Linked DNA regions of Homo sapiens: all the other regions are linked to region 1. Evidence: fine-mapped expression QTL. A gene starts in region 1. Each other region holds a variant in brackets. All regions are shown on one strand. Distances are from middle to middle.

Region 1 (8,185 bases):
GTTAATTGAGAACCCTGGTTCATGGAGAATTGTGGTTCGTGGAGAAACGTGGTTTGACAAGAGCATCTCTAGAGGACAGTTCAGTGTTTTGGCTGACCATACATTTGGCACGAGTCACAGTTTAGTTCGAGACTGTCAAAAGAAAGCAAAATGCAGCAAAACAAAAACAAAACCAAAACCATCGTGCTCCTGGACAGCATGCGAACCACAAAGCTGCAGAATGCGAAAGCTGAATGCAGGCTGCAAATCCTTGTTTCTATGAATAGTACCACCCAAAAAGGAAAGCATTTCCACAGTTTAGACCTTGGGACTAAGGAAGGGACCAACCCACTCTGCTCTGTACTGAGCAGACACCCTGAGAAATGAGTTCATGTCTGGCTACATCCCTCTGCTGGGTAGTAACTGATAGAAGTTAAGCAGCCCAGTGAGAAGCTAGTGACCACAAGACGGACCTGGAAAGGTTAAAGCTGAAGAAGTAATGACTCAATAGAGGAGTGAAAGCTGGCTCTAAATATTTAAAGAACTTATTAAAACACAAATTGCTGAGCCTCACGGGTTCCCAGGCGATGCTGATGTAACTGGTCCTGAGGCCACACTTTGAGAACCGCTGCTCTAAGTAACAAAATTGTAGTTTGTTTTTGTAATACTCTGTAGTTCTAAGATTCCACTAAGACCCGATGGCCTGTTTCTCAGTAAATCCACATTGGGAAGAATTTACTGGTTTTGAAGCCTCACACATTTGTGATTAAGATTGTTCTTTTTAACATTTCATATCGCTTAGCAGAAATTCAATCTTTCCTTTCTGCCCCTTAGTGTTTCTTATTAGTTCAGCTTCATAAAGCAGACTTCTGTTTCTGCTTCATTTTCTGGCATCTTATATGGTAGACATTTTTCCTCTGGTCTTCTTCCACTTTGCCTGTATTTTTCTGTTACGTTCAGCAGATCAAACTTCATAACATATTAAGTTGTGAGCTACCTTTATCAAATGATATCTGGCTCCCCACATCTAAAATAGTAAATACTGATCCAATCCTGTCTCCAAATGCCCACACTGAGCCCACCATCCCCAGAGATCTATTAGGATGGAAACGGCTGCATTCAATTCCTGATTAATTTTCTTTTCTCTTATATACTTGAAGCTTCAGTCTTTAGATCCCACTAGGAAAATTACAAGCATATGGGAATGCATATAAATGACATGCAAAGTAATGCAAATTAATACAAAACATACATCTCTAAATTGCTTGAGAAAAGTCTGTAAGCCTCAATGTTGATGTTATCTGCTTTGCTTCACTACACTCTGGCAAGCAGTGACTGGATCCCTTTATTACAGTTAATTTTATACAGCATCGAGCACCTGACACTTGTTGACACATTAAGTAGAAGGTGCCTTGCCTTGTGAGTCAGGCAAATCGGATCCTGGCCTTAACTTTGCCATTCCTTGGCTGTATGGGCTTGGACAGGTTCTCAACATTCTCTACGTTTCAGATTCTACAACCAGAAATGATAGAAATGGCATCATGATAATAAAACCACCAGCACTAAGGTTTACTGAGCACTTTATGTGCTTGCATAATGCACACAGGCAATCCTTACAACAGCCCACAAGGAGGTGCTGTAGAGCACGTACCCCTTAGGTGTGGTGCCGTTTCAGAGACCAGGAAACTGAGACAGGAATGTCAGGAAGCTTGGGCCTGGTCCTAAGCTAGGCAGTGACAAGAGTCAGACCCAGGAGCTCAGCAGTCTCACTGCGAGGCCTTGCTCTTAGCCATGCTGCATCTCTGTTGCGTGATTATCATCCATGTTTCTCCTAAACATTACATTTGTATGATCTGTGAAGTAAATCACTCGCAGTCACACGTGCTTTAAAACACTGTTTCTGTAAGATGTTGACAGTTTACATTACATGAGCTTGATATCAAAATACCATCGCAATCCAAGGGGGAGGGGATCCAGACATCCTGTGTGTTCAGCTTCTCCTTCCAACTCGCTCCATCGCATTCACATATGTCTAAGGCTCCCTCATCTTAAAGTACCTAGCCCTCCGTCCCACCTCTCACTCTGGGAGCAGCTTCCAGTCCTCAGACACCACCGCCTCGCCCCACCCCATCCACCCCAGGATTCAGACCACACCCCTCGTACAGAGGACCACCATCTGTGGAGAGTCAGCCAGCGAGTGCACTATGTGGCCACTAGGGAAGCCATTCCACTTAGGAGCCTCGAAAGCTGCCCAGACCCAATAAAACCAAACTTGTCTTTCCTCCTCCAATGTTCCCTGTTTCCGTAAATACCAGCACCCAAGCTTAGAGGGAGTCACGCTGCACTCTCACACCCTACACAAAACTCATCTGCTCTCACACCCTACACAAAACTCAGCCCCAGGTCTCTCCAGAGCCGGCCTTGAATCCGCCCAACGTGTCATCCCTACTGGCACTACCTCAGTCTCAACTGCCAGGCCTCCTGCACCCTCTGACCCAGCCCTGTCTACTTAGGGGCTCCTCAAGTCCATTCTCCACGGGGCAGCTGGAGTTTTGTTTTGCTTTTAATCCATATCTCATCTGCGTACTATCAGGTGTGAAACTGTCCTGAGGATCCACTCGCCACAATGCCCCTTGGCATCACCTGGCAGTGGTATCTGCTGGCCTCCCCGGTGCCATTCTCCATCCTCCCCTCAGGTCATACTGAACCTGTCTTTTCTTCCACCTCTCAGGCTCTCCTCTCCTCTGGTCTCAGCACACACCATTCCCGGGGATGGGAATACTCCCCTTTCTCACCTCTCCCCTCCCCCATGGCTGCTTAGTTTACACAGCTCCCACTCATCCTTGAGCCCACCTTCAGTCTCCCCAGCAAGGCCTCCTGCCTCAGCACAGATGCAGTGAGCTGCAGCACATCTGCGCCTCACAGCAGCCAATGCGCTGTTCACATTGGGACAGTTCACAGCCTGGTTCACAGCCAGTGCTCAACACAGGTGGCCTGAAGAACTCACTTTTCAGCCTTGCTTTGCTCATTTTTACTGTCTCACTGCTTTCTTCCCGCCTTGTAGCCTAAGAAGGAAATCCCCTGAAGCTGACTCCGTTTTACCTCTCCTATGTGGTGCTGTGATAAGCCCCAGGTCACCAGGTCATGCTCCCAGCACCCGTGGGTCAAGGATGAGGCAGAAACAGCACCGTCAGGTACAGGGCCCTCTACCTGCTCTCTCTCCCTCTCCCTTCCTAGAAAACAACCATAGGTCATTCAAAGTCAGTTTGGGAAGCACCTGTATTTATGGCCTGCTTATCTTGAAGGCACTTGGCCAGGTGCCATAAAGTGCTAACTCTGACTGCCCGACTATGCCATTCACCCCACCTACCTCTGTGCAGGAGATGTGACATTTAGCAAATCAGTATAAACTTTTTCCCCCAAAGAAAAGAGTATAAACCTTCTCATCCCACCACCACCCCGCAGCAGGAAACTCCTTTCAGTCTCCCCATAGAAAATTCAGCGGCCACACAGTTCCTTGGCTATTGTTTCTCTCCTGATACCAGAAAGAGATAAATCAACAACACATCTTAACTGGTCATTTCTCACACAAAATTGGATCCTTAGAAAGTGCAACATAGGATATGCTCTCTATAATGATTCACTTTTTCACTTTTAAAGATTTTACTTCCTTAAGAGACTATCAACAAAAGCTGTCAGAATGAACTGTTAGTTTCTAGAATGTTTTAGGCTTATTGATGCTTTAATAGGGACATGTTTTATGAATGCAAGATCAAAAAGGGCGACTTCTGTCTACTCACATGAGACAATTAAACGCATTATATTAGCCCCAACTCTGTTAATCTTCTGGTTTGTTGTTCTTCCATTTTTAAAGACAAAAAAAAAAAAAAAAAGAAAAAGAAAAAAATGAATTTAAAAAGTGCCCCAAGGCCAATATCGCCTCTCTGCCTGCCCAACGAGGGGACAATACACTGTTTCCCAGACTACGTGACTCGGAAAACTTCCCCGTCAGGGAAAGCTGAGTCTTTAAATTTACAAAACACCCACTCGCCCCGTTTACCTAGCACCGTTTCCTACGTGAAGACTGCAAATGGACTCGAGCGTCCCGTTTCTCGGCTCGGATCCCAGAAGCTCCCGACCCGCTGTGGTAGGCACCGCCACCTCGCAGGCAGACGATCCCGGCCCGCTCTGCGGCACAAAAAACTTGACCTTAAAAAGCCCAGAAACTGGTCTCTGGGAAGGGCGCGGCCTGGGAGGCGCGGCCCGCAGCTTCCGCCCCCAAAGAACAACTCGGAGGCCCCCTCCAGCCCCGGTTGCCCTGGCGCAGAAGCCGCGGTAGCAGTCCTTTCAGGCGCCCCGCGTCCCTGTCCCGAAGCCCAGGGGCGGGGGCTCGGGCAGCATCGCTTGTCCCCTCTGGTCCAGGGCTGCGGAGAAGCGGCAAGCGGCTCCGAAAGGCAAGCGTCACGAAGCCGGGCTCAGTAGCTCCCCCGGGCCCCCTGCGCCTCGCAGCGGCGCGGGCCAGGCTGGGCGGCGCTGGGCTCTGAAGGGCCAGGACGGCGGGATGCCCCTGCTCCCGGCAAGGGCGCGCCCACGAGCCGCTTCTTGGCACTTGGGGAGAGTCCCGGGAAAGCCCGGCGCCGGCGCGCTCGCGACTCCAGCCTGGCGGCTCCACTCCGCCCGCGAGCCCAGGAAGCCGGCTCCGCGGCCCGCGCCCGTTATCCAGGACACGCTCCGCGCCCGCCGCCCGCTGCCCTTTCCCCCCGCTGGCCTCGGGGAACTTCCCCGCGTCTGGCCGCAGGCGGCGGCTGCCGCGGGGAGCCCCGAAGTTGCGGCGTCTGCTAGGCGCGCGCCGGGTCGCCCACCCGGCCCGTGACGCTGTGTCCGTCCGCCGCGCGCTCTGGTGGCCCCGGGGCTCCTGCAGGCGCGGAGAGAGGCCGGGGTTCAGCCCGGTTCCCCGCGCGGCTCCGAGAGGGCGCCCCCGCCTGCCGCCTGGAGATGGACGCGGCGCCGAAGTTTTCCCCGGCGGGAAAACGAAAGTCGTGAGGAGCAGAGGGTCGGGGCGTCCCGGCGGAGACGAGGCTGAGACCGGGTTAACATCTCCAGCCCCGGGCGACCCTCGCTCCCCCGCGTGGCCAAGTCGACTTACGAGAGGGAGCGGGCCAGCCCCGAACGCGGGGTCCGTGCGGCTGCGGAGGCCGCCCCGGCGGGGGCCGAGGGTTGCGCTCTGGGTTCCCAGGCTCTCCGCGGCGGCTCGCTCTCGCCGCGCTCCTCCGTCGCCCTGCTGGGGAGCCGCTCTCGCCCGGCCCGGGGTGGGAGAGCGCTGAGCGGCCCCCGTGACGTGCGGAGAAAGTAGGAGCGCCTCCGCGCTCCCGCAGAGGGAGCTCCCTGCCCTGCGCTCCCAGTCCCCGGGCCGCGCTTCGGACAAAGTTCTCAGGCGCGCGCGGTGATCTCGGCTCTCCGCCGCTGCCCGGAGCGTCATCCACGTTCGGTTCCCTCCCACATTAGACAAGAAATCTGAGGTCAGGAGAGCTAAGTAACTTGCCCAAAGTCGCTCACAAGGCAGTGACGAAGCAAACTCACATCCGCGGCTCCTTTTTTCTCCTTGAACGCCGGGCTCTGCGGAGGCTCAGGCCCTGCAGGAATCGCCCAACCAGACAGAAGGCAGCTCGCTCTCATGGGTGAGACGAGGAGTGTCCCACGCAGCCGCGAGAAATATTATCAGCAGCGTGGGAAGGTGGAGCTTTTTGCCGAATAACTAGAGTGCAAAGTTGTTTTTCAAACAGTGCCTACATGCCAAATCGGCTTGCTTTTTATCCTCAAGCGAGAGTGAGGGTGGCGGCTGTGCGGACGCCAATCGGGATCACCGAATAAGTGCAGTGGAAAGAAAGCACACAGCCACTTAACCAATTGGCCGACATCAAGGACTTGGCCTTCCGAGCGGGTTCTTGTGAATATGCTAACTTTGTAAAGCGGGCGCACCACGCTGTGCTTGCTATTCACGCACTTCCAGGAGTCTCCCGCGAGGCTCCACGTCCTTTCGGGGCCGGGGGCTCCCAGGGCTTGCCTTTCAGGGCAGGGAGTGGCACCAGACAAGTCAATCCCAGTCGGTTTGTTCCTTTATCCCTTGCGTCAATCAGTGTTGACTGAGGGCCTGCAATGTGCATGGCTGTTGGGTGGGGAGCTGGGTAGGACCTAGGACCTAGGACCCAGTGAATCTCAAAGAGGGAGGGTCACATGGGTCCCCATATGCTTCACTCCCAGAATCTGGAATCTGCCCAAAGCAGTAGAGAGACTTTAAGTCTACCCCAGCCCCCACGCCTTTTTAAAAACTCCCTGTGTTCGGAGAGCAAGTGTTTTAATATTCGTTTTACAGACGTACTTTCAAGCAAATGGCCAGCTTTGCCTTCATTTTCTCCCCATGGGACCGCCTCTTTCTGGAATAATAATTTACACTTCCTGGGTCTCCCTCATTTGCACATGATGATGGCGATAGTCATGATGGTAAAAACAATTAAGGCTTCTATTATCCACCCTGGGCACTGTTCTAAGCAATTTATGCGGATTAACTCTTTCAATCCTCACAACTTTATGAGGGAGGTGCTATTTTAATTCTGATTTTACCGATGATGAGAGGGAGGCAGGTGAGGTGACATAACTTGCCAGTAAGTGGGTGGTCTGAATGGTGTCCATGCTCTTAACCACTGAGGTCTCCAAGACTGGAATTTAAAGGGACCACTAGCCATCATTAACCACAGCTTACACATCTCAAACAAGCCATGCTAGGAAATACATGCACTTCCTCCTAAAGAGGTCAATTTTATTATTTTGCGTGTATCATGTCATAAAGTGGATATCCATTCACTCACTTGCTCCTCTATTTCCAACTTCCAAATCAACTATTTTGTCCTAAAGCAAACTATTTCTTAAAAACCTATTCATCATAAAGTTTCCAATTTTTGTTTTGGATTGTTTTATTCTCAGACCATACCCAGCTGTTTCCCTCTCCTTTCTACTCACTGCCTTAAGTTACGCTTTTTTTTTTTTTTTTTTTTTTTTTTTTTTGTGAGACGGAGTCTTGCTCTGTCTCCCAGGCTGGAGTAAGGTGGTGCAATCTCGGCTCACTGCAACCTCCGCTCCTGGGTTCAAGCGATTCTCCTGCCTGAACCTCCTGAGTAGCTGGGACCACAGGCGCACACCAGCACGCCCAGCTCATTTTTGTATTTTTGGTGGAGACGGGTTTCACCATATTGGCCAGCCTGGTCTCAAACTCCTGACCTGGTGATCTGCCTGCCTCGCTTCCCAAAGAGCTGGGATTACAGATGTGAGCCACTGCGCTTGGCCAGGTTACTCTCTTTCATCCCTTAAAAACTTGTTGTAACCGGCCCTGCAGGTCTTCTGAAAGTGGGTTGCCCAAAGATGGTAGTGGCCCCAGAATGGTCTCTGCCACATTGTAAGCATGCTCATTGTGCTCAGCATTCCTGTGTTATTCTCCTAGGACTGCCTAACAAATACCACTGACTGCACAACTTAAAACAACAGAAATGTATTTCCTCATAGCTCTGGAGGCTGGAAGCCTGAAATCAATGTGTTAGCAAGGCTGGGATCCCACTGTGCCCCCTCCTAGCTTCTGGTGATTGCTGATAATTCCTGGCATTCCTTGGCTTGCAGATGCATCATTCCAGTCTCTGGCCTTTTCCTGTGTGTCCTCTGCAAACACATTTCCCTCTTCTTTAAGGATATTGGTCATTGGACATAGGGCCCACCCTAATCTAGTATGACCTCATTTTAACTTGATTACTTGGCAAAAACCCTATTTCCAAATAAGGTCACTTTCACAGGTTCCAGGTGGACATGAATTTTCAGAGAATGCTGTTTAACCTGGTGCAGTCTCCAAAAGTCATTGTTAATAAAAACATATTGCCTGAGCTAAGGATGCAAAGAGGTGTAAGTCACAGCCCCTGCCCTCCAAGAAACTCTAGTTACAGAAGTAGTCCTTGCACTGAGAACATAAAGACAGGCGTCACTAAGAGCCAACTAACTGAAGCCAAATGAAAATCTAGGGACCAAATGGCAGCTGTACACAAGGAATTCAGCCAAAGGGGCACATTCACTGAGGATACGGCTGCAAGACTTCACTCAAAGGTGAGGGTGATTCAAACACATCTGTGAGGGAAAAATTGAAAAAGCAAAGAGAAATAAGGAGAGC
Region 2 (8,185 bases), 28 kb before region 1:
TGCCCAGAGAGAGAGTAATGCTGGGGACCCCTGTAAGGGAGAGCCAGTTGCTTCGAAGGCAGACAGAGGGGGAGCCAGGAACTGGCTTGTGCCCAGAGGGAAAGAGTTAGGCTGCTGACCCTGTGGCTGGCCTTGCAGGCCAGGGAGTGCAGCTGCAAGCATGGGAGTGGCAGGAGCCACAGAGCCAGAGCAGACAGGTGGACAGTGTAAGAGAGCTGCTGATGAGAGAGCTGCTGAATAAAATTACATTTCACCTACTTACAGCCCCCCGAGTGTTCTTTCAGCTATTCGCCCATCCACCCACTTGCCTCAGACCTCAGCTGAGGCTGGAATCTAACCCCAAGCAGGACATTTGGCATAGTCGTGGCCGTGGACCTGACACTGTTGAAATATTAGGTCAGAACACAGAATATTGCCAATAGTTGACCACTTCTGACCTACAAAAACAGCAGTTTCATATGGTTCAATCTATTATTAACAAGTAAAATAATTTGATATCTAGAATTATTTTAAAATATTTCTGTGGGAAAATGGGGTGAAGGGGTGGATAGATGAAATAGGATTGTCAAAATATTGACAATAGTGGGTCTGAGTGATGAGGATGTTGGGATTCATCATGCTCTTCTCTCTCTCTGTTTGTGTTTGCTTGAAACTTTCCATAAGTTTTGTTTGGTATTCCACTGTGTATTATGACTACAAGGTAGTTTTTATGACCATAAGTGAACTTTAATTTAATTTTGTGTAAACACACAAAAAGGAGAGATTGAATTGGGCTGTGTAAATGAACCTAAGGGCAGGTGGAGCTGGTGTCACCAATGATTGATTGACTGCCTTGAACATCTCGAGGACCCCCTCTGTCATTGTCTTTCTCTTCCCTGTTCCTTTTGGAACATTAATTCGCTGATACAAACTTGTCCAAGTAGTGGGGTGTGGACACAGAGAGAGCTGTGCTGGGCTAGCAAGCCCACATCCTTATGTTTTGTGATTAAAAAAGAAAAAGGAACAAGAGGTTCTTATTCTCTGGCAGGAATTTAACAAGTCCCAAGAGCCCTGATTAGCCCCGTTTAGATCAGGCGCCCACTCCTTAGACCAATTAGTGTGGCCTTGGCTGTGAGAGGCTGTAATTGGCCCAGCTTGGGTCACGTGACCACCTCAGTAGCCAGGAGGGCTCTTTGTGCTCTGAAGATTCTGGGATGGAAGAAGGGCTGAGTAGACAGAAACACTAGCCACCCTTATAAGGTTTCTGGTTCTTTGCACTAGCTATTAGATTACAAGCAGTCTGATCACAGATCATGTCTTTTTCCTTACCAGTTAATTATTTGTTTCCCCAGTTTTTATTTCAAAGTTTAAAGACCTGGTTGCAAGGCTTGTTGCAAAACAGAATCAGCATTCCCCCTTTCCTTTCCTTGGAGGTGACTAGTAACTCTCTGAAGTGGTTCTTTTGGTTTTGCTTCCACAAATTGGAGTGACATCTTTCTATTCCTCTATTTGGTTTTTCAGTTACAGGCATTGTCTACCTAGTCCGATCATTGAGATGATTTTGATGTCTTTCACACCCACCCACACTCCTACCCAACATATTCATCCTTTCTATCCCCTCATGTTGCCTGTAAATTATATCAGTAGCATTGATTAGGTCAATATTTAACATTTACACGATCCTGAGTATGTAAACTCTATCTCTAGCCAAGCTACACCTGCACCACTTTGTATTCTCCTTAGAGTTCATAATTTTTTTCCCATGGAAATTTTTTCTTAGCTGGGTAGAGGCCATCTCACTAGCATACATCTTTGTTTTATAGAATTACACATACGTCTGAACTCGAGATTTCACCCCCATGATTTCAGGTTACTCACACCCTCCAAAATTCATTTGTTTTTCATTGTATTTTATAAAATAGTTACAAGTATGGCAGCCATGCGGTTGAAAACAATTTTAGGAGGACCTATAGTTACAGAAATGCATCAAATTTGGTCATTATTTTAAAAATATAGATAGCTACCTCTTCAACAATGTAGAGAAAGCATATAAAACAGCATATAAAATATTTCTGAACTTTTAACTATAGTGTCTTAGGATCAAGAGGTATGTATGCTTATTGCAAAATTTGGTGGTTTCTAAATATTAAAATCAGCCTAATGCTTGCAATGTTGAAATAATGTTCAGGAAAGATATCCTAACAGTGGTTCTCAAAGCATAGTTTAGAACAGCATCAATCTCACTTAGGAACTTGTTAGAAATGCAAATCTCCCTCCCCTTTAATGAGAAAGAGGGAAAGGCGGGGAGCAATCTGTGTTTTAGAAGGCCTCCAGATGATTCTGATGCAGACTGGAGTTTGAAAACCAGTGTCCTAGACAAACATTGTGTAAGTTAGGGATCATGTCCAGCTGTTAGTAATAGAGACTTGAGATGACAGTGGCTTAAAGCACATACCAAGTTTTTCCTTACATAAAAGGAGACTGCAGGTAGGTAGTCTTGGATGATTCAGATGTCATATTTTCACTCTGTCCCTGCCATATAACTCCCATCCTCATGGTTTTAAAATGGTTGCTGAAATTTCAGCTATAACAAACATTCTAGGCACAGGAAAAAGCAAGAGAGATGGGGAGAAGGCAAGCTAGGTAAATTACCTTCCAAGCGCACTCTCAGATGTCCCACCCAGTGACTTAGGCTTTAAACTCATTTGCCCACCACCCCATAGTTGAAAGGGAAGCTGGGAATTAACAGCTGGTCACATTGTTGCTCAGAATATAACCAGGGATGCCAGAAAGAATGGATATTAGAAGGAACTAGCAACTTCTAGATCCTTCCTGGAATGGAGTCAGTCATCAAAGTTAAGCCTTTAAGAACATTATTCTGAAATAGCTCTTTACTACCCATGCATTAAAACACCATCTTTTATCTGCTAGAGGAAAAACTACTTCCTTGTTTTAGGCAAAAGTCTTGGCTTACTTTGAGAATCTGAAGAGCCATTTATCAGAATAAATGAATACAATTTCACATAAGTAGAGGCTGTAGTTGTATACATCAACCAAGCATCCTGCACAGTTTCTGAGAAGTTGATTTATAACAAACATACATGAAAAACAATCAATTAAAAACTCCATTCTCTTCAGGATTATAATTTCTCTCATGGAAATGCATCATAAGGAAGTAATTCAAGGAGAAGCTGTACGAACAACACTGTTCATAGCACTGTTATTTATGACAGCAAAAAAAAAAAGTAGTTTACAATTCAAATGTCCTACAGTAAAGTAGAGGCTGAGTGAATTGTGGTATGACCATTACATAGCCATAAAGACCATGTAGCAACATGGCAGAGTGATTGTAAAAATATTGGCAGTGCGGGCAAATGTCAAAACACGTGTATGTAGATAAGAGCATTCAGAGAACTATAATGCTTTTGTCAGGATGTTAGAATTATGAATATACGTGGTTTCTGTTTAATTTCCTTTATTGTTCTATGAGAAACAACAAAGAACAAAACAAGAAACAAGAAGAACAAAAAAATAAATTTACCCAGGTTCCTGGCCATGATTTTCCCTGAGATTCTTTTCTGGCTGTTTGTCTTATGCATGATTCAACCGAGGGTGCTCCAGGAGGGCGTG[C/A]TTTGCTGCTCTGTGGGAAGGTTGTATGTAAGGCCCGATGAAGAGTCTTCCTGTGGCTTTGGTGTGTCCACGTGGGTTAACACCCTGATCATCTGTCTCTGAAGCCGTTTGTTTTGCATCACCAGATTTTTTTTCCAGTACTGAGAACAAATTTACAATCATCTATTCATTCTCTCTTGCCACAGTTTCCTCATAATCAGTTTCATGTAACTAGAAGCCAATTGTCCCAATTTAGGTGTAGATTTGTAGGTGCCAATGGGAACAAAAAAATATGAAACTTATGTAGGAATCAAATCAGTCTTTAATATGATGCTGTGTATAGACCTGCCTCACCACCACTGGCACCAAAAAATAGTCCCCTGTTCCTGAAATTACTGTGAATTTGCACAGTTGTCCAGCTTGGTAAGAGCTAGAATTAACCTTAGGTTGAGTATAGTGTTTATTTTTTTAGGTTGAAGATTCCCCAAATGCCCCAAATTCCTTGAGATGGATTGAGATTTGTGAGTGAAATATGCAAACCCCTGGCATATCTACATACTGGGTAGGCTGGTGACTGTTATGGGTTTAGAAATGGTGAAAGAAAAATGGCCAGGGAGCTTCTCAGCGGGTGGGGGTTGATGATAACAAATACTCAGCTCAGTAGAGCTGGGAGAACAGAGCAGAAGCTCATCAGGAATCCTCCACCAGCAAGGCCTGGGGACACTGGGGGTGTCTGCGTGCTCACAACCAAGGCAGGAGTCCTTCAAAGAAAGGGAAGAATCTTGGCTGGGTGCCTTGGCTTATGCCTGTAATCCCAGCACTTTGGGAGGATCACGAGGTCAGGAGTTTGAGACCAGCCTGGCCAACATAGTGAAACCCTGTCTCTACTAAAAATACAAAAAATTAGTTGGGCATGGTGGCGGGCACCTGTAATCCCAGTTACTTGGGAGGCTGAGGCAGGAGAATTGCTTGATCCCGGGAGGCGGAGGTTGCAGTGAGCCGAGATCGCACCACTGCACTCTAGTCTGGGTGACAGTGCGAGACTCCATCTCAAAAAAAAAAAAAAAAAAAAAAAAGGTAGAAAGGGAAGAATATTGATTTTCCAGGAAGTGAGGGACCTGAGATAAAAAGTTCAACCTACCCTATTGAAAACTACTTCCATAAAGTAATCAAGCAAACAAGAGTATTTATCTTATTAATCTTACAGGAGAAACCAACCTGAAGTAGGAGGAAGACAGGTAAATCCTGGAAGACTCTTTGAGACTTTACCAAATTAAATGGCTTAAGTTCATGTGCCTATATTGTGTATAATACACATGCTGAATTTCTTTTACACTGAAGTGAAATAAACTCTGCTCTTTAAATAAGGGGCAAGTGCCATAAACTGAAAGAATCTTTGTGGGGAATCAGCAAAACCAGAGAAAGGAAAGCTCATAAAGTCCAAGGGTTTGGGTTTTTGGAGCACATTTTATTTTACAATACCAGAGAATCAACATCTAGTAGTAGCATAATACAAAATGAAACACCAATCTATTTAAAACTCATGTAATGGGAACTGTATTTCAAAAATGATAAGAAAACAAAATAGGAGATTTAGAGACCAGTCGATATAAATGTATAAAAAGCCCCCAAAACTCTCATTTCATCATCAGTGCAAACAAAAATCATTTATAATAACATACATATGAATACATTCACTTACACTCACAAAGTGGATTATCATTTTTATTTTCCATGAAATATGTCAAAATATATGCAAGTATATCTTCACATTCTGATGGGCAAGATAAATCTTCAAATTAAAATATGTACATTTCACTTAAATTAACCAAAATATTAAAAATAGCAGCAACACTGGTCTTTAAACACGTCTAATATCCCAAGAGATTGTTCACACAATATAGACTATTTTGGTAGCTCTTTCATTATTAATATTATTTAATATCCACATACAGTTTAGAAACTCTAAGGTTCTGGTCTGATCTCTGAATAACTTAAAGTCTAGATTCAATAAATACAAAGAATAATTATAAAACACAGACTGCAGGACATTATCAAGACCAGGGAGGAAATCATACCCAAAGGTTTTAGGGAAGAATCAGATATGAAGGCGTACAGGAAATCTGTAGGATTTCCAAGGCAAAAAGGTGTGATCTGACAAGCTCCCTGATATGTTAACAGACTGAGTCCAGAGAAATGTGTGAATGTCTCGAAGGCACTTTCTCCGCTTCATCCTTCCATGTTCCCTTTGAATACGGCATTTAAGTGATGAACAACTTTGGAAATTTCCCAATAAACAGGGGATAGAATCATTTCTCACCAGGAGGCAAGACAGTGGATCAGGAGGTTATTTGTTTTTCAGCATTTACGTTTATTCTGATGAGCAAAGGCATAAAAACCAAGATTTCAACAGGATTTCGTGTATTTCATCCTAGATGGTGGGAAAAGTATTTGTAGCCCCATTCTCAATGTGTCACTGTACCAACCTGTAACCCTATTGGCTTAGAAAGAAACCCCAAATGGGGTTACAGGAGTTTCCTCAGATCTGGATTTGGTTACAGAAGTTGCCCCTGTGACTGGGGACTCTCTTTATATTTCAATAGTTTTTCAGAAAAGGTAAATGTTTAAGCCTTTCGATGGGGTTGGACCTTTGCCTATACTACTACAGGTATCACTCTCTGACATTGAAATGTCAATAGTTTGTACCTATTTTCAAACCACTTCATATACTATTTCAATCGATTCTCACAAAAAAAAAAAAAAAAAAAAAAAAACACTTGTGTGGAAGCAAGGATAGGCATCCAAGTGCTCATTTCAAAGATCTGGAAAACTGAGGTTCATAGAGACCAAAGTGACTTACCTGTCCACAGTCGCACACGAGTGAACTGGTATGGATCTTTTGCAGAACTTGGCTCTATACAATGTTTACTTATTTTGAAGAATGGGGCTTGGTAATAGTTATTTCCAAAGAATGAAGTAATTTGAAGGGGGTAAATAAAAAGGGAGAAAAATGAGTTCAAGAGAAGAAAGGGAGCGAGAAGTGGTGTCAGTTGGCAGTTAGTATTATGAACTTTAAAATGAGCAAAGTGCATTTCACATTTAGAACACAGACATTTAAAAAATATGTAATACTTAAATCTTCCAAATTGTCCTATTTTGGGCTAGATTTACTACATCTTTAAATATAATATCTGAGGCTACATTTTTATTTACTGAGGCTGCCATTGAGACATATCATGACCAAGAAATTTTTACATGAGTTCTACAATTTCCCAAGAGACTGGTGAAAATGTTATTGCCTATTCTCAGAACCCCATTCCTACCCCATTTTACTTCCAGAACAATTCCATTATATATATAATATATATTCATTATATGTTATATAATATATATTTATATATATATAATTATATGTATATATAATATATATTCATATACAATATATGTATATATAATATATATATTTATATATTATATATGTAATGGAATTGTTCTATATATAATATATAACATAAATATATATTACATATATATAAAATATATATTATATATATATATTTTTGACTCATTGGGTGGTTTTCTCAAGTGTGGGTTTTAGAAAATATCCTTAATGAATATTCTTGCTGTGTCCTTAGGAAAATTAGCTTTTTTCTCTCTGGAACTAAGCTGAGAAAAAGACTGCAAGAAACTTAGAGCTTTTATCACTTTAAATCTGGATTCCAGTTGGACAGTTGCCAGAGAAGAAAAAATTTTAAATGACTATACAAATTAATTTAGAAAGCTGTCATATTTCACACAACCTTTTGAAGAAAGTTTAGTGACTCTTAGCTTGATAGTTCCATACAACAGAATTATAATGATTCCACAGAAAGTATTCCATTGTAAAGAAACTTATCTAGAATGATAACTTATGAATTGAGGACTTAGGCTTAATGTTCTGGTGTGTGACACTTGGAGCTATTGGTCAGTTCTTATTTTTAATCAGTAAATGCATTTTAAAGAAACAGTTGAACTAAAAAGGAGGCCATTCATGATACTGTTTTGTAACATGATAAAAATGTTGTATAAATCCCTTCGCTCCTCTTTAGGTACTACCTGTCCCAACCCACATCCTCACCCCCTTCCTTAACTTTCATACATTATAAATGCCCCCCAACAGTCTCCTCAACCCTGAATTGACCAAGTAATGCACCAAAAGGCAGATTATGCTTTGGCAAGCAGGAAATTGGACTATTCTTTGAGATTTTTCTGAGGTAGTGAGTCTTTCCTCCTCTGCTCTGATGGTTAAGAAATGTCTTGAAAGCTGAGTTAAGAGACAAGTGGAGTGTTGGTCACAGTACTTAAACACTACTCTGAAATGGGTGGTTTATATGATCAGACGATTACCACAAACTTCAAAAGCTTCTTCAGTAGAATCCTGACTGTTATGTGGAGAACTTAAAGATACCGAGGTTGCTATGATGAGGATAAGCCGCAGTCTCTAAAAAAGTGCCTGTCATATAGTTAGGTGCTCAATAATGTTTGATGACTGACTGAATGTTTAAGATCTCTGATTTGGCTCAGTGAGATTACAAGCAAAAACAAATATTAAAAAAAC
Region 3 (8,185 bases), 100 kb before region 1:
AGAAGGTCAGAGGGAATTTTTTGCTCTTCTAGGGATGGAAAAATTCCACTTCCACCCTCTTAGGGTCTTGGCTGGGTCTGAGAATTAAATTAACATAATATAGATTAACAGGTGAAAAACATACAAATTTATTTAATACAAGTTTTACATGGCAGGGGAGCCCTCATGCATAAATGAAGACCCAAAGAAGCAGTTAGAGTGAGTTACTTATATACTGAATTGGACAAGGAATTACAAGTTGTGAAGAAGCAACTAACTTGTGTGGAGAGGCTTTAAAAGATAAGAGTGATTCTATCAAAGTCTACAGTATTCTCTTGGTTTTAACTTTTCATCCCTGAAGATAAGGATGCTGTCTTTCCTCCTAGTACAGGGAGAGTGTCTTCCACACTGGAATTTCATCTTCTGCTCTTAAGAAACAGCATGAAGGTCAAAGTGATCTTCTGGCATCTGCTGTTTTTCAGGTGTTTTTAGCTTAAACAGTTAACATGCCAGAATATCATATTTGAACACCTTAACTTCTGAGGCCCTTCCATCCTCCTTCAGTCCAAAGTACCCACTATGCCAAAGTACCAAATTTTGGGGTATCACGCTCTGAGCTCTAATACCTCTTAATTAAATATAGTGATGGTCATTTTAAAACATACTATTTTTATACAAAAATATGTAGGTATTAGAAAATATACACTTTAAAAAATTACTTGCAATTCCACTTTCCAGAAAGGATAGAATTTGCATTTTGGTGATTATATTTTCAGAATGTTTTCTATATGGGGCTTTGAGGCAGAGAAAAGAAATGAAGTGGCAGAGAGGATATCAAATATTGTGATATTTTGAGAAATCCTTTGAGGAATTTTTACAGATATATATATATAAATATTTGACAATTCCAAATTATTTCAGAGTAATTGATAAATCCAAAAATTTGCACAAGAAAGAGTAAGACCTAGAAGATGATGAAAACATCACAGAGAAGGAGTGGGGGTAGATACCAGTCATGAGAGGTGATCTATTTGTAAGTCACAAAACTAATACTGTTGTCTTGACTGGTATTGAAAATTCAACAAAAGAGGAGGAGGAGGTGGAGACATAAAATGAGAACTATCAGAGTGTAATTTTGAAACTTGTTTCAAGTGTGTGGGCAGGCAGTGGTCGGGGAGGGCGCTCTGGTATATCAGTGCACTCCATACTTGAGTTGAGGTTAAAAAATGCATGCATATCACAATAGCAGATTGAAACCTTATACACTGAGCCCTTGGAGAGCAGAACAAAGAGGAAGTGGAGAAAGGATTCCACCACCAGGTGATAATACTCACCGGTCCAAAGGGAAATAAGAGAGGGAAAAATCATTGCATTCAATCAAAACCTTATGCTCTGATGCCAAACTTACACTGCCCAGCTAATGGAAGTGGTTTGACCCATTGACCTGCAGGGTACAACATTAATACTTTAAAGACTCATCACATGTCCTCTTGAGAAAAGAGTGCACTCCTTCCAGGATGCTTCTGACACTTCACTCCCCGTTCCAGTAGCAGCTGAAAGATTATGCCTCTTTTGACTGGGTTTCCTTGTAACCCTGACTAAAAACTACCTTAGGCTTGAGGGGTTGGATGGACTATCTCCCTGGGTCAAGCCGGGAGTCAGAGGTTCTTAGTGAATTCAACTGAGATTAAATTTTGCTATGTAATTAAATCACAGCAAAAACTACAATGATATGGAGGAGAGAAGACAGCCTGTGGTTTGGAACATAACTCAGTCTGCTATTAAAATGCATAGGGTGTCTATAGCTAACAACAGTGTACTGTATATTTCTAAATAGCTAGAAGAGAAGAGTTGAAATGTTCCCAATACAAAGAAATAATAAATGTTTGAGGTGATGGATACCCTAATACCCTGATTTGATCATTACACATCATATGCATGTTCAAAATATTACATATGCCCCATAAATATCTACAAATATTATTTATCAATAAAAAATGTATGCATAAAATGAGCAGGGCATGAGTATAATGTACTGTTCTGGATGACTTGAAGAAATACTGCCATTGAACACAAAAACACATTTGCTAGAGTGCAAAGGTCAGGGTGAGAATGAGTCATTGAGTCCTGGAGACCTCAGGGCCATTAGCTGTAGTCAAATATCAGCCCTGCCAATCATTACTAATTGATGACCTAGGATTCTGCTCAGAGTCCCCTACTAAATGCTAGCCATGTGTCAGCCATCATGCTACCCAAGAGAGTCGTTTGGTGGACGTATTGAGAGATCTGCGTGCCTGAGCCAATGTGAGAACAAGATGGCAAAGTTCACACACGTAAGTGTAAAATTCATCACTGCACTGTAGGTGAACTCAGGTTTGGTCTTTTAAAGTCATTCATCAAAAAAGAAAAGGCAAATGCAAAGGTATTGTCTTCATAATTTTTCCTCATCACTTGAGAGCACAGACTGGGAAAATGAGGCTCCAAGAATGCCCAAATATGTTGTTAGTGCTACATGGAATTTCAAAGAATAGGGTATGGATCCACTTGGAGAGATCAGACATGATTTAAACATCTAAAGAACAAGTCATGGCAATATAGACCTTATATTCAGGGCTTTTCACCTATATCTTCTTTCTATTAACTAGTAGTGTGCTACAGGGGAGCCCAGGGCAGCTGCCTTTTAAGCCGCAAATCTATCTGTTCTCCTTAACTTCTCTCTGGGTAGGGGCACAGAGTCTCAGTCCTCACCACACCTCCAATTCCAAGGAGTAATCTGGAATTGCAGAAGCATTCAGTTATTTCTTTCCCTTGCATCAAAAACATTCAGGTGAATCTGAGTCTAGAGAGAGGAGCACATCCTAAGTGTAAATGGCTCCTTTCAAACCTTTTAGAGTCTTTCTTTTCCTTCTTCCCTCTCTCTCCTACGTTTACCCATCCTGAGGTCCTTCCTCAGGAGCACTCTCCGAAAAGGGCCTAAGATTTGCTGCTGTGTTCCAATTCTGGTCAAATCTCTATTTGGTACTTTAATGGGTTAGAGAATTTGAAAGATCAGGGGAAATCCTAAACTGGACAGAACCTAGATGTTTACAAGAGCCTCTCCCTTGGTCTTAGAGTGAAAATGACATTTATTTGATTGAGTCCCTGTGGTGTTGCAAAGCTTTGCATGTAGGGGATGTAAACTTTTTCTGTTTCACTGATGATTTTAGTCGTATAATAATAAAATCCCCACTCCCTCCAAGACAACCTTTCTCCTCTCCTGCTTCTTGATGAAAGTCTATTCTTGGATTAATGTCAGCTGTTTATCCAAAGCTGGGCTGACAAGCTTCAAAGACATTTTAGTAATAACCCCATTGCTGTTTCTACCACTTACTTATCACTGTGATATGAGAACACAGAACTAGGAATTTTGGGTGCTCCTAGCCCCCAACAAGGTGAAATCTGGTTCCCGAGAGAGGAGAGTAGGCTGTCAGCTAAATTGCACACAGAGCATCTTGCCTGCAAGAGCTTCTGAATGCTCTGAAAACTCTCTGGTCTTATGATGCCTCTACTCTGCAAAAGGATCATTGCTGAGGTCAAATGACTCTCTCTGTCATCACTCAGTAACTGAACAGCTACACCAGATATAGAATCCTGCCTAGTACTCCTGTCTCTCAGGCAGGACCGTAAAACACTGCAAACAGGAGGAAGCAGGAAGAAGTCACCCATGAAGTCCTTGCCCCTGATAAAAAACAAAACTCATCCGGCCTCTGAAGTCATAATAGTTCTTGCAGCTTGGAGTGTGCCGCCATCCTCCCCAAACACATCTCGACTCTGAAAGTGACCCTATGAAGGCTATGACTGCTAAGCAGCAGGCAGAACAGGTGGGTGCATTTGCTATGTTGAACAGCAGCATTCCGGGAGGATAA[T/C]GTAAATTCTACTTAAGCCAAACTGCTACTGGGGGCTGGGCTCAAGTCATGCCCTCAGGTTGCAGAAAGGGGATGATGGATGCTGGCCTTGCAGTTCTCTGCGCTTGCTGGATGATACATGGAGCAGTGGTGTTGGCCTCTGAGGGTGGCTGCCCAGTCGTTGGCTGGAGCAGGGGTACAAAGCAGCACAGCACAGTGTTGGCTAAGGTTCCGCAGTAAGACTACCTGAGTTCCAGTCCCATTAGGCTTGCTACCATTTAGCTATGAGAATTTACTTCACTTCTTTCTGTCTCCATTTCTTTATCTGTAAAATGCAGATGATAATAGCACTTACCTCATAGGGTCCATCGTTAGGATTAAGTGAGCTAATGTGAGTAAAGTACTCAGTACCTGGCGTATAGTAAGAACTAAACTTCACTATAATATATCACTCCATGGGCTAATAGGTCACTTTTAAAAATTACAGTTTTAGGCCGGGTGCAGTGGGTCACACCTGTAATCCTAGCACTCTGGGAGGCCGAGGCGGGTGGATCACCTGAGGTCAGGAGTTCAAAACCAGCCTGGCCAAAATGGTGAAACCCCATCTCTACTAAAAATACAAAAAAATTAGCTGGACATGGTGGCATGTGCCTGCAGTCCCAGCTACTCAAGAGGCTGAGGCAGGAGAATTGCTTGAACCCGGGAGGCGGAGGTTGCAGTGAGCCGAGATCACGCCACTGCACTCCAGCCTGGGTGACAGAGCGAGACTCCATCTCAAAAAAAGAGAAAAAAAAACAAACGTGGTTATAAATAGCCATGTGCTGGTAAATGTTTAACAACCAGCTCTTTAGGAAAAAAGCTCTGACTTGTAATGTTTACTGATTTTCATGGTTTAAATATTTCCACCATGATTAATTACAAGCCACCAACGTGACAGCATTGGATGCAGAGCCGGGAGGAAGTGCTCACAGTCAGCTCCCAAGAGCCAGCATACCACAGTTATGAAGCCCAGCTGGTAAAATGAAAGATGTGAAAAAATAAGAATAAAATTTGAAATATAAAATTATCACCAACTATGTAAAAAAAAATTGTGTGCACAGAAAAAAAAGAAAGGAAATTTACTGGATACTGACTGTAGTTGTATTAGAAGAGTGGTAGGAATGTAATTAACTCTTTAATAGATATATTTTTGTTTTCCTTAAAGTGCTTATGTTAATTTTATAGTGGAAAAATGAGCAGAGTTAACTACATACGTACACACACACACACTTTATATTATGGAAAATTTCAAACATATGGACTAATAGTATAATTTAAGTACTCATTAGTGGCTCCAAAAATTATCAATGTTTTGCCAATCTTCTTTCATTTCAATTAAATAAAATTTCTTTCATTGTATTTATCTCAGAGACCATGTCATTTCACCTGAAATAGCCCAATATATATTTTAAAAACATAACTACCACATCATCATCAACATTTAACAAAAATCCTAATAATTCCTCAATATCATCTGACACCTAGTCCATATTCAAGTTTCCCCAATGGAGAAAGATGGCTTTTACAGTTTGTTTCCTTGAACGAGGGTTCAAACATGGCACTGTGTTATTACTTTAAATCTTTTTTTATTCCATAATGGTTATCCTCTCTTTCTCTTTCATGCCAGCAATTTCTTGAAGAAGCTGATCATTTGTCCTGTGGAATGTCCCATGTTCCAATTTTGGCTAATTGCTTCCTTATGGTTGCTTGTTTCTCTAGTCCCCACATTTCCTGTGGCCGCTGGTTGGACTAAGAGAGTGATCCAGGCAAGAGTTTTCACGGGTGGTGCCAGATACTTCCTCCTGTGTCATATTCTGACACATTTAATGCCCGGCTGTGCCACTTTTAGTGACGCTAAGATTGCATCTAAGTGTAATACATTTAGGAACAAAATTAAATAGGGGGAAATACTTGGAACAACAGAAATGCCAGACACAGAAGAAACTGATTTCAGCAAAACATGAGACAGGGTTTTCTCTGAATTCCTTTGGCCCTCCTGAGGGCTTCACATCCCCATCCTTGGTCACTACAAAGCCTTGGAATGCCTCTACCTGGACCTGTACCTCCAATCATCCTTCGCACTGCAGCCACCAAAGTTCTAAAGTGCAAATCAGACCACTTCACCATCCTGGTTTAACTTTTCCAGTGGCTTTCTGTGGTCTGCTGGAAAAATGTAAATTTCTTTAGTTCATCACTTAAGCACCCTCATGATCTAGCCCGTGCCTACCTTCCCTACCTTCTCACCCATAATTCTCTTTCTCTCTTCCTATATATCATGCTTCTCACCAATGCTCCAACCACACTCAGCTCCATGTAGTTCTATTTTTATTTTATGTTTCATAGAGGCAGGGGTCTCACTATGTTGCCCAGGCTGGTCTCAAACTCCTTGACTCAAACAGTCCTCCCACTGGGGCCTCCCAAACTGCTGGGATTGCAGGTGTGAGCCACCTTACCCAGCCCATGTAGCTCTCTTGATATGATGCTCCTTCACAACTCTGGGTCTTGGATTGGTTATCCTCCTGCCTAAAATGTCTTTCCTTTCGTCTGCTTGGCAGTTTTCCACCCATCTTTCAAGACTGCTGAGCCAGCCATTTTTGACCTCCCTAGTCTAGTGTGAATGCCTGTCCTCTGTTTCTTCATGGGTCCTCATGAGTACCTCAACTTATTCCATCATTCCATCCCAGTGGGCTTTACTGGGCTTGGCACACTGCAGGTGCCCAGTGATCATCTGTTGAATGAAAGAATTTAAAATGAAGCACTGTAGAAAGGATGAAAAAAGTGCTGGGTGAATTTGCCATTGGCTGAACAAGCACACCCAAAAGATTGCTAAGTGCTGAGTATGCTGAGTGACCACATCTGTACCAGAGCACCCTCACTGTCTTTATTTCTGCTCTGCTCAACATTTTCATCCCTTTAGGAGCTTGAGTTTGCTTGAATTGCAAACATAAGCAAAACCTACCTTGAGCTATTTCCTTTAGGTGCCTATATTAAAGAAAAACACAATGTAAGCTCAACCAATCAGAAGCAGCCAATGAACTTATATAACTAAACTTTCCAACAAGATAGACCGAATAAAGCAACTGCATAACTGTAACCAATAAAATATCTTTTTTGCTTTACTTCTGTGCTTGTCCTCTAAAAGCCTCCCCATTGTGTTCTCTTGGTGGATCTCCCCAACCACCTCTGGTTTGGAACTGCCTGACTTGCAAACTGTAGCTTGCTCAAATGAACTCTTTAAAATTTCACTGTGCTTCAGTTTATTTGTTAACAATAGTATCCACCACAAACTTTGTTTTGAGGATTAAATGAATTAATATACATAAAGTGCTTAGAACACTGCCTAGAACATAGTTCTATTCAAAAGCTTGTTATTAATATTCTGCATAGGTCTTCACCTCTCTACTTGTTAGCTGGCTCTGCATACTTTGTGTTTAAGTTTTGTTTTATCCACAGCACATCTGGCATAAAGCTTTAGAGGATGAATGAATCTTATAGAAGCACTTGGGAGATTGTTCAGGGTGGTAGTAAAGAGGATGAACTTTGGAGCCTGGCTGCCCAGGTTCCCACCCTGGCTGCCCCTCTGACCACTGAGTAACCTTCACCACACAGATGGAAGCCTTCTGTAGCTGTTTCCTTGTCTGTAAAATGACAGTAGTCCTGGGTCTGTTGTGACATTTACATGAGATCATTCATGTAAAGCTCCCAGCATAAAGGCTGGCAAATGGGAATGGCTCACTAAATGTGATTTCCTATTAGTAAGTATTTTCCTTCCTTGGGAATTTGCATTTTAACATGAACTAAGGAGGGGGCCTATTTGAAGGCAAGCCAGCATTTTGGACCTATCCCAATAATCAGTAATCTTATTTTTTTTCATTCTATCTTGACTATCACATCAATCCTGTTTATACTTGCACAAATAAAGTGGTTGGAATCCTGCCTGTTCACCAGAATGAATGACATGAATGACTTCTATTTCTGTCATTGGCTGTATTCAGCATAGCCCCTCTCGTTAACTCAAAGTAAAAAAAAAAAAAAAAAAAAAAAAAAAGCAACCAAATCATTCAGGTTCAAGGGGATGGGAACAATCCAGGGACTCAGAACAAACGTGATTCTTCAGCAGCCCACTAATCAGCCAAGGCGGGTGAGACTTCCCAAAGGGCTGTGACTTCACAGCCAGGGGCCTCAGGCTAAAACTGTCCCTAATGGAAATCAAATAAAAATTCAGGGATTGCTTCAACAACCCAGCACTGGACTTCAGCTGAACTGACCATTCCTCAGGGAGG

What was found.
Region 2: its variant is fine-mapped to the expression of GCNT4 in whole blood (TOPMed, PIP 0.93).
Region 3: its variant is fine-mapped to the expression of GCNT4 in lung (TOPMed, PIP above 0.99).

The regions. Positions count from the first base shown.
Region 1 is chr5:75,048,390-75,056,574 of GRCh38, forward strand. GCNT4 (glucosaminyl (N-acetyl) transferase 4) reads right to left here and starts at 4,169. Exons shown (of 4, transcript NM_001366737.1): 1 at 4,040-4,169; 2 at 3,780-3,838. RefSeq lists silencers at 4,416-4,665, 4,886-4,935, 5,056-5,425 and an enhancer at 7,271-7,861.
Region 2 is chr5:75,020,311-75,028,495 of GRCh38, forward strand. It overlaps GCNT4 (glucosaminyl (N-acetyl) transferase 4), which reads right to left. Exons shown (of 4, transcript NM_001366737.1): 4 at 5,036-8,185. Among named protein-coding and RNA genes, the nearest start is that of GCNT4, 28 kb to the right of the region's middle. The variant C/A (reference allele first, on the strand shown) is at 3,610.
Region 3 is chr5:74,944,552-74,952,736 of GRCh38, forward strand. It overlaps LOC105379040 (a long non-coding RNA gene), which reads left to right and starts at 3,616. Exons shown (of 2, transcript XR_948485.3): 1 at 3,616-3,839. The variant T/C (reference allele first, on the strand shown) is at 3,885.